Linked DNA regions of Homo sapiens. The protein of the gene in region 3 purifies or fractionates together with the protein of the main gene of each other region. This does not show direct contact. Each region holds a gene or a part of one and is shown on either strand. Other genes may lie near its edges.

Region 1 (3,500 bases), on a different chromosome or scaffold from region 3:
CGCATGGATCACCTGAGGTCAGGAGTTCAAGATCAGCCTGGCCAACATTGTGAAACCCTATCTCTACTAAAAATACAAAAATCAGCCGAGTGTGGTGGCATGTGCCTGTAATCCCAGCTACTTGGGAGGCTGAGGCAGGAGAATTGCTTGAGGTGGAGGTTGCAGTGAACCAAGATGGCACTACTGCACTCCAGCCTGGGCTACAGTGCGAGACTCCATCTAAAAAAACATAAAATAAAACAAAAAATAAAATAAATAAATAAATAAATAAATAAAAATACAAAAATGAGCCTGGCATGGTGGCATGTGCCTGTAATCCCAGCTACTCTGGAGGCTGAGACAGGAGAATCGCTTGAACCTGGGGGGTGGAAGTTGCAGTGAGCCAAGATTCTGCCACTTCATAACAGCCTGGGCGAAAGAGCGAAACTCCATCTCAAAAAGAAACAAACAAAAAAACCCAAAAAACAAAATGATCACCCCATGTTTATTTTTACCTATAACATTTGTTTCAAGAAAGATGTAGGTTATAAGTGCAGGGCAACCACAGTGGGCAGGTAAGCACCAGCTTGCAACAAGAAAGCCCAAGGGCCAGGCACAGTGGCTCATGCCTGTAATCCCAGCACTTGAGGAGGCGGAGGTGGGAGGATCCCTTGAGCCCAGGAGTTTGAGACCAGCCTGGGCAACATAGTAAGACCCCATCTCTACAAAAAAATAAAAAATGAGCCATGTATGGTGGCATAGGCTGGTGGTCCCAGCTACTGAGAAGGCTGAGGTGGGAGGATCGCTTGAGCCTGAAAGTTTGAGGCTGCAGTGAGCTATGACTGTGCACTCCAACCTGGGCAACACAGTTAGACCCTAACTCAAAAAAAAAAAAGCCCAGAGTAAATCCAAGCATATGAAAATGAGAGCATCCCAAAAGCCAAAAGTTTAAATCTGAGTAGCCTCAAATTTACCAGTTCACACTTTTTATACATTTCCGGTAGATGCATTATATTAGTAACGTAATTTTTGTTAATAACTCAATTTTTTGTTTGTTTTTTGAGACAGAGTCTTGCTCTGTCACCCAGGCTGGAGTGCCATGGCACAATCTCGGCTCACTGCAAGCTCCACCTCCCAGGTTCACGCCATTCTCTTGCCTCAGCCTCCCGAGTAGCTGGGACTACAGGCGCCCACTACCATGCCCAGCTAATTTTTTGTATTTTTTAGTAGAGATGGGGTTTCACCATGTTAGCCAGGATGGTCTCGATCTCCTGGCTCCAGGATGGTCTCAATCCGCCCGCCTCAGCCTCCCAAAGTGCTGGGATTACAGGCGTGAGCCATCGCACTCGGCCAAGGAAAGGGGGTTTTCTAGCAGCATCTACTCCTGTCTATACACAATGCCCAAGAGATTTAACTGCTTGACCTTTGACCCCTGTGGGTAATGGCCAGAGCCAGGCTGGATGGGGGAATAAACAGTTGCTCCAGAACCACGCCCCATCAACTCCATGAGTTTGGCATCCTAGAACTTCTTGGGATGGCTGCTCTCAGATAAAGGCAGAGTCCATACAGTTGGTGCTAGGAGGTTCCCTGGAGCCAGAGAGGACAGCAGAGAGCAAAAGGGAGAGGCTGAACCCTGAGGCTAACCTCAACCTCCTAAATTCATTTACAGAAAGGAAAACTGGCCGGGCGCGGTGGCTCACGCCTGTAATCCCAGCACTGTGGGAGGCCGAGGTGGGCCGATCACGAGGTCAGGAGATTGAGACCATCCTGGCTAACACGGTTTTCACCCGCCTCCACTAAAAATACAAAAAAATTAGCTGAGCGTGGTGGCGGGTGCCTGTAGTCCCAGCTACTTGGGAGGCTGAGGCAGGAGAATGGCGTGAACCCAGGAGGCAGAGCTTGCAGTGAGCCAAGATCGTGCCACTGCACTCGAGCCTGGGTGACAGAGCGAGACTCCATCTCAAAAAAAAAAAAAAAAAAGAAAGAAAAACTACGGATCAGGCTTCCGTCCTCCTCGTAGTTACACATTACCAGCCAATGCAATTGAGAGTCCCAAGGGAATAAAAGGTGAGTGCACGCATAAAACTCACCAGAGATTGGAGGAACACAGGCACCCTGATAAACAGAACAGTCTGTACCAGAAGGAGCAGAATAACTGAAATTAAACATGGATTTGCTCAGAAAGATAAGGATAATATTGAAAAGTTGTTTTAGCCAGGGGCAGTGACTCACAGCCTGTAATCACAGCACTTTTTGGGAGGCCAAGGTAGGCAGATCACTTGAGGTCAGGAGTTCGAGACCAGCCTAGCCAATATGGTGAAACCTGTCTCTACTAAAAATAGAAAAAAATTAGCTGGGCATGGTGGCACATGCCTGTAATCCCAGCTACTCAGGAGGCTGAGGCAGTAGAATCATTTGAACCTGCAAAGTGGAGGCTGCAGTGAGATGAGATCATGCCACTGCACTCCAGCCTGGGTGACACAGCGAGACTCTGTCTCAAAAAAAAAAAAAGTCGTTTTGAGGAAGAACCAATTGAGGCAATTTGTTATGAAAAATACAATTGCTCAAATAAAAATTAAGTGAATGAGGTTAATTGAAATACATACAGCTAAATAAAAGATTAATGAGCAAAAACTGCGTTGAGAAACTCAGAATGCACCAGGAAAGACAAGAAATGAAATGAATGAGAGAAAAGTTAAGAAATAAAGCAGTTGGCCAGGCGTGGTGGCTCACGCCTGTAATCCCAGCACTTTGGGAGGCCAAGGCGGGCGGATCACCTAAGGTCAGGAGTTCAAGACCAGCCTGACAACACGGAGAAACCCCATCTCTACTAAAAATACAAAAGTAGCTGGGCATGGTGAGGCAAGCGCTACTCGCGAGGCTGAGGCAGAAGAATCACTTGAACCTGGTAGGTGGAGGTTGCGGTGAGCTGAGATTGTGCCATTGCACTCCAGCCTGGGCAACAAGAGCAAAACTCCATCTCAAAAAAAAAAGCAAGCAAGCAAGCAGCTGCGTGGGTGCAGTGGCTCACACCTGTGATCCCAGCACTTTGGGAGGCCAAGACAGAAGGATCGCTTGAGCCCAGGAGTTTGAGACCAGCCTGGGAAATACAGCAAGACCCTGTCTCTACAAATAATTTAAAAGTTTGCCAGGCGTGGTGGCACGTGCCTGTAGTCCCCGTTACTTGGGAGGTGGAGACATAACTATTTCTTGAGCTCAGGAATTTGAGGCTACAGTGAACCATCATTGCACCACTGTACTCCAGCATGAGCTATGGAGTGAGACAGTCTCAAAAAAAAAGGAAAAGAAATATTACAGGATATTTTGAGGGAATTCCTAGGAGATCAAATATAGAAGAAATGCTAAAGTTTCCAGGAAGCCAAGTAGATCACCTACAAAGACTCAAGCATGGGAATAACATCACATTTCTTAACAGCGACACTGGATGTACAATTCAGTAATAGCTTCAAAGTGCTGAAAGAAAATAATTTTGAACCTAGAATTTCATATACAGGTAAAAT
Region 2 (3,500 bases), on a different chromosome or scaffold from region 3:
CTGGGTGCAGTGGCTCATGCCTGTAATCCCAGCACTTTGGGAGGCCAAGGCAGGAGGAACGCTTGAGCCCAGGAATTGGAGACCTGCCTAGGCAATATAGTGAGACCCTGTCTCTATTAAAAAAAGAAAAAAAAAGCATTCTTTCAAATACTCTTTGAGGGATGAGGGTACAGTAAGTCTCCCTTGTCAAAAACAAAAAGCCATCAAGTAACAGCATTAAATCTATGGGTTATCTTATTGGTAAAACTCCAGTGCTTTCAATTCTGGGTCATTACTATTACACGCAATACCACTTACTTATTTTCAGTGTCTGCCACTGGATGATGTTCTTCACCTTCAGGTGTTTCCTCAGTCACATTTGATTGATCCAAGTCACTGTAATTATAAGATATTTGTTTCTGAATGTATTTGGGGGACTCTCTAAGGAAAGAAAGAAAAAGAAAGGCATCTAGGTCCATTTACATGTAGCTGAAAAGTTCTTCATACAAAAATACCATAAGCTCTCACATTCTCTAACTCCTTTCTTACTAAATATACTCCCCAGAAGACGTCGAAAAGTAAACAATATAAACTAGTTAGTTCATATACTTCATACTTAAAAAGTAACAGAACAAGGCAGTTAATTATAAAATGAAGCTTTACTAGCTTATCAAATTTTGTAATGACAACAAAGTCAAAAGCTAGAATAGGAACTATTAAGGACACTAAGATAATCAGAATACCCAAATAACCTTATTGTGGGGTTTCAGGAAAAGCTACAAATACATATGGGGGGGAAAAAATGAGTAACAAATATATCGAAATATTAAAAAACCGGTCATTCAATATACTATAACCCAAACCCATCCCATAAGACATTATCTTGTAATATAGTAACTCTCAGAAGAGAGCATTCATTCTTATCTCAGAGACAAGTAAAATTTGACAGAGGTATGGATTAACCTCTAGTTAGGTATAGAATTTTTAAGAAAATCAGAATACCAACGTTAATTCGTCTTTGACAGTTCCCCAGTTGTGAGATCCGCTACCTCCACGTTTGTCCTCGTGCTTCAGGCCACTGTAATGTGAAAAAGAACTAACAAAACTGAGTTAACATAATACTCTTTAGTTCTAGAAATTCAAAGTTTGTTTATTAAATAGATTAAAATATTAAAGTAAAATAAAAACCAGTAAGACTTACGATCTATCACTTCCACTATGCCTATCAAATTCACGTTTGCCACGAGAATCAAATCCATCTCCTCGGCCCATTCCACGTCCACGGCCCCCTCGACCTCTTCCAAGACCACCACGACCTCGAATAGGTCGGTCAATAATCGGTCTATAATATAAACAAATAAATTATACTTCCATGGTTTCCAGAAGAAATGAGGAAAATTCATCCAAAAGATCAAAAATACAGAACATGTTTACTGGCTCAAAAACCAATAGTTAAATACATACACTTCAGAAAATTCAAAATAGTCTGTTTCTAAACACAAAGGAAACCAGAACAAGACAGCCTCCCAAAACAAGAAAACTATTTTAGCACTCTAAAGCATTACTACCAGTGCATATACTTTTCCACTGCTATTCATTGCACATATAATCCAGTCCATCACTATTTACCAATACACTTAAAAATTAAACACATCTAACTTGCATAAGTAATTTATTTGCTATAAACAATAAACCAACAGTATTTTCCTTCAACTAACAGTATTTTCCTTTTAACTCTGTATCTGGAGAGAGAAAGAAAAAGAAATTGGTTATCAATTCAACAAAGTGTTTCCATTACAAGAGACCTAAGTTTGAACTGTTACCCAAAGATCTAAAGCTTAACAATGCACACATACAGATGTTTCTGTGAAAAATTAATAGAAACAATTAGCCAGACTGCTACCTGGCAATTATGCCCAATTTATAGCTTAACATTAAAATGTGACTCTATAAAGTAACAAAATATGAAGACTTCTTTGGTTTACGCCTGTAATCCCAATATTGCAGGAGGACAGCTTGAGCACAGGAGCTCAAGACCAGCCAATGCAATATATATAGTGAGACCTCAGCTCTACAAAAAAAATTAGCAGTGTGGTGGCGTGACCTTGTAGTCCGAGCTACTCAAGAGGAGACTGAGATGAGAGGATCATTTGAGCCCAGGAAGCAGAGGCTGCAGTGAGCCAAGCTTGTACCACTGCACTCCAGCCTACATGTTAGACCAAGACCCTGGCTCAAAAACAAGAAACAACTTACCTATCAACTGAAAATTCGCCTCCTTCACCCTTTTCTTCAAGTGGCTTTTCGAATCTTCGTTCACGAGGTGGTCGCCTTTCTGGTCTTCTATCAATTATTTTCCCTTCACCCTGAAGTTGTTGATCAGGTCTTCTTCCAACTCGTCTTATTCCTAAAACGATAAGATAACCTGCATAAGCAAATTATTTTTGCAATCCAAAAACTTTAGGCCTGGACTGTCAAAAGCTGCTTCTCTTCCAATCCACTACCATTTCCTGTTGGAAAAAAGCAAACACTGGGCAACTCTAATGTGTAACAAAGTACCTTAGGAAAACTGCCATTTAAAGACAATAAACCTTCCAATCCATACCACCGACTAAATACATAAATAAATAAAATAAAAACAATAAACTTATTTTAAACTTCTATTTAAGTTTGCCAAGTTCTCCCCCTCAAAAGCATTTTCTATAACTGACTTGGAAATCATTTGGGCAACCATTATTCCCGTCACTTTCCAAGATAGTCTCTTAATAAAAACTTTTAAATTTAAAAAATTTTAGGCAAGCAATACATTTTGGCTTTTAAAATACCAAAGAAAATACCAGCAGCCATTCATAAATAACCAAGCAAATCAACACACTCACTAGATATGGCCCCTCACAAAAGTGAGGGCCGCACTATGTTATTCTATCTAATCTGAAAAAAAAATGCAATTAAGACTCATAATTCTATAAAATTACAAATCTGAAAGGAAAATATGGCATTTAGGATTATTAGAGAACATCACTTCAGTTTAAAACAGCCATTTAACCAGAAAAAGTGTCATCTTTTGGTCTTCTTAGCTACAGGCACACAAAAAGGGCCATCTTCCCCTATTAAAGTTTAAAATTTTATAGCATGTAAGTGTATATATGTTTGTACACACTCCCACATCCCTAAGTACTTCCAAGTTAGGAAACAGTTACTTATTATGCATGGAGAGAGTCCTCTAAAAAATTTGCCCTAACAACTATCTTTATTTTCAAAGAATCTTTAAAAACCAAATACACACACGTTAAGACCGCTTTTAAGCAACATGTAAGAAATAAGAAAACTTGTGACACTAAGTGATAGCTGAAGCATTTACTAATTTCCCCCTTTACTACTTTTTTCCTGTAATGTCTGAAACCCCACAAAGGCAACCAATTTAAATTATTGGTGCCCATAAGGATCAACAGATTGATGGTTAAATTAATGACTTTAAGATTGTTGGTATGCTCTAATTCCCAATTTCTGACAAAGTCATAAAG
Region 3 (3,500 bases):
ATTTCAATAATGTACTCTGAAAATTTTAAAAGGCTGAATCACAAGGAAAGTTTGAACTTCTCTCTATGGACACTACTTAACATAAGAACAGATTTTTAAAAGGCATATGCTAAATGTCTGTACTCCTAGCCCATATATATATATATTAAGAGGGAAAAAAAAAACAACTACTTCTTGTCACAAGTTATAGGGAAACCTAGAAACAATTGTGCAAATTAATAACTGGCAATTCATTTCTGCATGTTGGGTTTTTCTCCAACAAGCTTTATTTGTTACAAAAGCCTTTAACTGTATTATTTCCCAAAATACCATGTGATGGAATGAATGCTACACCCTTCCCTCTGGGTCAAATATCACCAAAATAGCTTTAAAATCCTATGTAACAGATTTAGTTAGATTGACTTCGGAGCAAATTATTTACGAATATCTTTTCTTGCAACATGTCTAAACTGCTGGAGTACCCCAAGGGCCACTCTAATTTAAGCACTTCACGAGTAGACCTGAATAGTAAATTAAAATGAAGAAAGGCAAGAATGGAATGATGGCCTTTAGTACGGACCCCAGAAAAAAGTTACTCTGTGTTCTGGAATAATGGGCTGCCCGGCAATGAGACATATCCAATCCACTTGCCGTTATAGTCCTCTTTGTAAAATGGCACCTTTGCTTTTAATCCATGAGTCCACAACATTTTTTTCCATAAACAGTTCTCACCAGCTCTCCCTGCCCTCAAAGAACTTACAATGTGGTTGAGGAGATCAACAAATAAACATCTATGTTTAAGTGCTATGCTAGGGGTGAGCACATTGCAAAACAGAAGGGGAAGGCTCTTGAACCAGTCAAGGGGGTGGGGATCTTCGGCAAGTACACAAGGAAAGCTTTGTAAGGAATAAGGTCAAAATGAGGTGACATGTGGAGGAGAAAAAGCATTCCAGGCAGAGTAAACCTGTACATATGTCTAGAAGCAAAATAAGCACGAGAATGTTCAGAGAACTCAAAGTACTTCAGTATGGCTTAAGGTTCTCTAGAGTGCAAGGGAGAAGATAATTTAAAGATGATAACTAGACAAGTAATTAGGAAAAGCCTTACAAGCGGCATGAAGGTGTTTAAGCTTTAACTCCAGGGCAATGGATCCACATACCCACAAACACTCCTCCCTCCAGTCCCTAATCCTGAGGATCATTTGTAATCTTTGTTAACAAGGGGAATAAACATTAAAATATAAACTGAAAGTGTATTTCTCAAGGAATGTTTTCCTACCTGCCAAGCCTTGAGTTCAGGTTTCTGGGATTCCCCTGCTACAACTGATGAAGCCACTAACACCTAAAGCAGTATAAGGAATGCAAGGGATGTCATTAACTATAACAAACGATACACAGAAGCCTGAACGCAGGACTTTCACTGCAGGACTTTTAAACCCATTTCTAAACAGATTAGTTCAAACAGAGAAAATTAGTTTCTAAAATATGGTTCAAGTAGTAACTAATGCAACTAACAGAAGGTGTATTTTGAGCTACGATACCTGCAAAATTTAAAGAGAGAAGGCATGGAAAAAAGAGAGTCCACTGTCAAAAGAAAAATGTGACCACTAAATGCAACCCCATTATTTTGTGTTTATGGCATAAGAGTTGTTACTGTGAATAAATTGAAAAGTATGTATCACACTAATTTGTAGTATCTCATAAGCTGGCAATTACATTTGGAAAAAAAATAGAACATAAGTAGCCTACAAGTCTAACCAGAGAAAACATCCAAAATACCAATTGTGACATCTGAGACAAATTACTTGTATTGTAATTCAAAGTGACAAGTAATTCTTACCCTCTGGACTTTTGTACTGTTAGGTTGAGAAAAATGGGTGCTGTTTTCCTTTATATCTAAATGTTTTTTTTCTTCTGGGGCATTAGGTCCAACCCTTGAATTATTGGAAGGAAGGGAATTTGGTGGCATAATTTCCTTGGTAAAAAACAGAAAACACAAAAGAGAAAAAAAGGACCAATTTAAGACTTTATTTAGCTCTATTAGTGTTATCAATCATCATATTTTTAAAAAATGTAAGTTATTATAAACAGTTTTGGTTTATAAAATTACCGAATACAAATTGTACGCAGAAAAAAAAGATTTAACTTTAGCTAAAAGAATCTTTCAAAAAGAAAGCTAGACAATATGTGAAAATTACGGCTCTTTGATGAGACAGTATCTTAAGAGTACTATTGCACAGAAAGGTGCATCCTCACCTCTCTACCCCATGCAAATACTTTAAAAGCTGCTACAAAAAGCATATATTTATGAAGATAAAAGGGTTACAGAATTTAAAGGTAAGGAGGATGGGGAAGAGATATTAAGCACAGAAATAAATTTAAAGCACACAGAATAAACACACATACTACACAATCCCCACACTAAAAAAGTGAAAAGATGAAAGCCAGAAAACCTGTGTTCCAATTTTGCTTTTGTCAGCAACATTAACATTTACAAAGTGCTTTACGAAGCATTTACATATATATTATTTTATTAAATTGCCATTAACACTCGACCCAGTGATGTATGTCTCATATTTAAAAATTTATAACTACCCATTTTAAAGATCAGGAAAAAAGAATTCAATAAAGTGACTAATCCAAACTCACTGCATTAGAGGACAGAGAAGGGCCATTATCTACAATTATAACATTAATTACAGCAGGCATGCTTGATAATCAGAATATTTGCATTCACTTTATGCACATATTAGAGGTCCTCAACATATCACATAAAAAACTTTTACTTTTATTATATGTGCCACAAAATATTCGCACTGTAACATACCTCTTCTTGTGGAACATTTTTCTCATTTTCAGCCTCAATCCTCACCCTCACAACTCCTGACTTGTCCACAATCTCCTGAATCAGCTTTCCATTTTTTCCTATTACTTTGCCTAAGAAATAAATAAATCAAGTTTGGTTTTAAAAACACATACCTCAAAGCAGTAAGCACAGCCCTACTGTAAACTATTACATTCATATAGATAGATATTTTTATGTGTATGTGTATGTATTGAATTGTAAGATTTCAAAACCAAAGTAGAGACTCTTTTCAACAAGATGGTTAATCTGGTTTTCTGTTTAATTAGGACATCATTGTTTAAACTCCTTTGGTCAGGTACCAGAGTTGATTAATACTTGCAAACTGATAGGGTAATTTTGGATTTTTAAGGCAGTTCAAAGATAACCTCTTATTTTTGCACAAAAGGGTACGCTTTAAACTTGCTGGTACTGTGGTATGTATCATTCTTTCTGCAAAGTTCTATAAGAATTAAGAAAAAAGTAGAGAGAATGGGAAATATATTCACTTATTCAACACTTTCAATTCTTGTCTGTACCTGATTTAAATCTGCTTCTTTGTCCATGGTAAATATTTTCAGAATTCTGTATGGAAGGCACATTTATAAAAGATAATCTAAGTCTGAAAGTGGCTTAAGCAGCTATACATACATCCAAAAGGAATACAAATTCTTCAAGGT
Region 4 (3,500 bases), on a different chromosome or scaffold from region 3:
ACCTTTTTCTGTAAAACCAGGGATAAGAGCACCTACATCCTAAGGTAGTTTAAGGTTTACACAATATATGAAATGTTTAGAAAAGTGCCTAACACATGGGCAGCACAAAATTAGCGTGCTGGGGGTATTCAACAGACTATGGATGAATCAGACTAAGACCATGCCAAATTCATAAATATATTCCTTTTAGTGTATGATTTCTCCCACAAAATTTAGTATGGGTGTCTTGTCTTAGAACATTTAGTGGCTGTGTAAGAAGACAACTATTTAACCTTAAGCTGTAGTTTTTTTTTTCTCTTTTTTTTTTTTTTTTTTTTGAGACAGAGTCTCACTCTGTCGCCCAGGCTGGACTGCAGTGGCGTGATCTCAGCTCACTGCAAACTCCACCTCCTGGGTTCAAGCGATTCTCCTGCCTCCGCCTCCCGAGTAGCTGGGATTACAGGCATGTGCCGCCACGCCCAGCCAATTTATTTTTAGTAGAGATGGGGTTTCACCATGTTGGCCACACACTCAAACTCCTGACCTCAAGTGATCCGCCCACCTTAGCCTCCCAAAGTGCTGGGATTACAGGCATCAGCCACTGTGCTCCTGGCCAAGCCTTAGTTTTTTTAGCCTTAAAGTGTAACAGTAACTAGTAACAGTGCATACAGTTCTCTCCCCACCCCACCTCTCTCCCTTAAATCAAACAAAAAAAATCACTTTCTTTGACTTCTATTTTCTCTGGGCCATTTTTTCACTAAAAACCCAAAGCTGCTTTCACTTATGTGAAGAATGGGAAACGAAGGAGGTGCTTTGAGATGTGGGTGGTTAGGTGAAGAAAGAAAATCATGTGAAGAAATTTATTCCTTCACAGCAGCCTTGTGATCCAGGCAGTTCAAATCTTAACTCAGAATTGTTGAAAACTGCTTCCTATCCCAAACTCTCAGGGTCACTTTTAGTTTGAAATCTTAAAAGATAAATACAAACATGTCTTTCCTTGGTGCTGAGCTTTTAGTCTTATAAGTAGAATTACTGTCCTGCAACTCCTATGATGTTTGTATGATAGGAACTTCAAAGTTCTTTCCCTGTATTCACTAATAAAACTCATGTTTTATAGTTAACTTAAATGTAACACTTAAGCCATAGTAGTTAAATTTTATTTATGTGATTGGTGACAATGCTAAATGAATGTTTTACTTTAGAGATCTAAGGAATGGTAAACCACCTACCCCGTATTTTTCCTTACAAATTCAAGAGCTTCAGTTTTGGAGGATAGTGTATATCCCTAGTGTCTTTTTGACTGTCTTAAGTAATAGTAATATCTACGTCATTGGCCTGAGGCATTAAGGATCATTGGAATATAGGGTATCAAGATGAATTTTGTTTTGTCGGTAGTGCCCTAAAATGAGCTCAGCTTTCTGAATCAGTGAACGCGTGTTGGGTACTATTGTTTTTTGTGGTTTACCCTGGCAGCTTGTCAAACCAACTCTCAGGCTCCTTTCTGCTTTGCTGTATGTAATAGGTTGTTTATATATAATAGGTTGTTTATATAGTTGCATGCAGTAGGTGATAGGATGTATTGACTCTAAATATCAGAAGTGTCTTGGCCAGGCGCGGTGGCCCACGCTTGCTATCCCAGCACTTTGAGAGGCCTAGGTGGGTAGATCACTTGAGTCCAGGAGTTCCAGACCAGCCTGGCCTACATGGCAAAACTCCATCTCTACTAAAAATACAAAAATTAGCCAGGCATGGTGGTGGATGCCTGTAATCCCAGCTACTTAGGAGGCTGAGGCAGGAGAGTCACTTGAACCCAGGAGACAGAGGTTGCAGTGTGCTGAGATCGCACCACAGAGAAAGAGACTCTGTCTCTAAAAAAAATAAAATAAAAAAATAAAAAAAAATAAAAGGCAGGGCACAGTGAGTGGCTCATGCCCATAATCCCAACACTTTGGGAAGCCAAGGTGGGTGGATCACCTGAGGTCAGGAGTTCAAGACCAGCCTGGCCAACATGGTGAATCCCCGTCTCAACTAAAATAACAACAAAAAATTAGCTGGGTGTGGTGGCGGGCACCTGTAATCCCAGCTAGTTTGGGAGGCTGAGGCAGGAGAATGGCTTGAACCCGGGGGTCGGAGGTTGCAGTAAGCCGAAACCATGCCATTGCACTTCAGCCTGCATGACAGGGTGAGACTCTGTCTCAAAAAAGAAAAAAGTGTCTTACCTTGATGTTGTAGCCTCTTTAAAATATTCAAAGGAAAAACCACCTTTCTAAGAGTATGAAACACATTTAAATTGAAAACATTTTTCTCAGCAGGTTTCTAACTGGCCCATGTAGATGTGAGCTTGACTTTTAGTGAGCTTGGCATAGCTGACTCTGCAGTTCTGTCTCTTTTGCTCAAAAAAAATGTGACCAGGTGTGGTGGCTTGCACTGGTAATACCAACACTTTGGGAGGCCAAGGCAGGACTCTTGAGCCCAGGAGTTTGTGATGAGCGTGGCAACATAGCAAGACCCCCATCTCTATAAAAATTAGTGGCGCAGTGGCTCACACCTGTAATTCTAGCACTTTTGGAAGGCTGAGGTGGGCACATCACTTGAAGTCAGGAGTTCGAGACCAGCCTGACCAACATGGTGAAACCCCATGCCTACTAAAAATGCAAAAATAATTAGCCAGGTGTGGTGGCTAGTGCCTGTAGTCCCAGCTACTCAGGAGGCTGAGGCAGGAGAATCACTTGAACCTGGGAGGCGGGGGTTGCAGTGACCCAAGATCGTGCCACTGCACTCCAGCCTGGGCAACAAAGTAAGACTCCGTCTCAAAAAAAAAAAAAAAATAAGTCAGGTGTGGTGTTGCATGCCTGTAGTCTGCTACTCAGGAGGCTGAGGTAGGAGGATCGCTTGAGCCCAGGAGGTTGAAGCTGCAGTGAGCTATGATTGTACCATTGCACTCCAGCCTGGACAACAGGAGGACCCTGACTCCAACAAAAAGGAAAGAAAAATGCAACTGATGTCTCATGGCCAGCATGAGAAGTTTTACCTATCACAATTTTAGTACGAATGGCCATTTGCCCACAAAAATTCGTTTTTATTAGGTTATTAATTGCCTTTAACTGTTTTCATCAGAAGAATATGGTTTATCCTTCTTTCACCAAGCATTCAGTTGCCTCTACTGTGATGGGCAGTAGTTATTGTCAACCTTTTAGGACTTCTAACTGCTCTCTTCTATGTTATTTTCAACAATCTATGAAATGTAGATGTATCACTGCAAAGGGCTATCCCACTTGGATTTGGGCCATCTTTCAAGTTAACTGACCTTTTCCATTTCATACATGAATGACACTAATAGGATGTGTTTTCATCTGCAGGCTCAGGGAAGAATTTATGGAAAAATTAAAGAAGAAAACTTTGTTAGTCCTAAAGAAGAGGTGAAACTTGAAGCTCATATCAGAGTGCCATCCTTTGCTGCTGGCAGAGTTATTGGAAAAGGAGGCAAAACGGCAAGTACTTCAGCAAAACCTGTGCAGTGG

Evidence for each region. Proteins that work in one complex are often made in the same cells at the same time.
Region 1: the proteins of FMR1 (region 3) and BCL7B purify together in Homo sapiens (affinity purification with mass spectrometry; 3 studies listed by BioGRID and IntAct, with this or other methods). This does not show direct contact.
Region 2: the proteins of FMR1 (region 3) and SERBP1 purify together in Homo sapiens (co-immunoprecipitation; 2 studies listed by IntAct, with this or other methods). This does not show direct contact.
Region 4: the proteins of FMR1 (region 3) and IGF2BP3 purify together in Homo sapiens (affinity purification with mass spectrometry; 2 studies listed by BioGRID and IntAct, with this or other methods). This does not show direct contact.

Annotation. Positions count from the first base shown.
Region 1 is NC_000007.14:73,544,191-73,547,690, forward strand, and holds part of BCL7B (B-cell CLL/lymphoma 7 protein family member B), read right to left. Parts: intron 1-3,500. UniProt on the Homo sapiens protein: Positive regulator of apoptosis. Plays a role in the Wnt signaling pathway, negatively regulating the expression of Wnt signaling components CTNNB1 and HMGA1.
Region 2 is NC_000001.11:67,423,903-67,427,402, forward strand, and holds part of SERBP1 (SERPINE1 mRNA-binding protein 1), read right to left. Parts: intron 2,384-3,500; coding exon 2,233-2,383; intron 1,322-2,232; coding exon 1,181-1,321; intron 1,076-1,180; coding exon 986-1,075; intron 421-985; coding exon of another isoform or gene 376-420; coding exon 298-375; intron 1-297. UniProt on the Homo sapiens protein: Ribosome-binding protein that promotes ribosome hibernation, a process during which ribosomes are stabilized in an inactive state and preserved from proteasomal degradation.
Region 3 is NC_000023.11:147,935,919-147,939,418, reverse strand, and holds part of FMR1 (fragile X messenger ribonucleoprotein 1), read right to left. Parts: intron 2,916-3,500; coding exon 2,806-2,915; intron 1,954-2,805; coding exon 1,819-1,953; intron 1,321-1,818; coding exon 1,258-1,320; intron 1-1,257.
Region 4 is NC_000007.14:23,313,492-23,316,991, reverse strand, and holds part of IGF2BP3 (insulin-like growth factor 2 mRNA-binding protein 3), read left to right. Parts: intron 1-3,338; coding exon 3,339-3,470; coding exon of another isoform or gene 3,471-3,500. UniProt on the Homo sapiens protein: RNA-binding factor that may recruit target transcripts to cytoplasmic protein-RNA complexes (mRNPs). This transcript 'caging' into mRNPs allows mRNA transport and transient storage.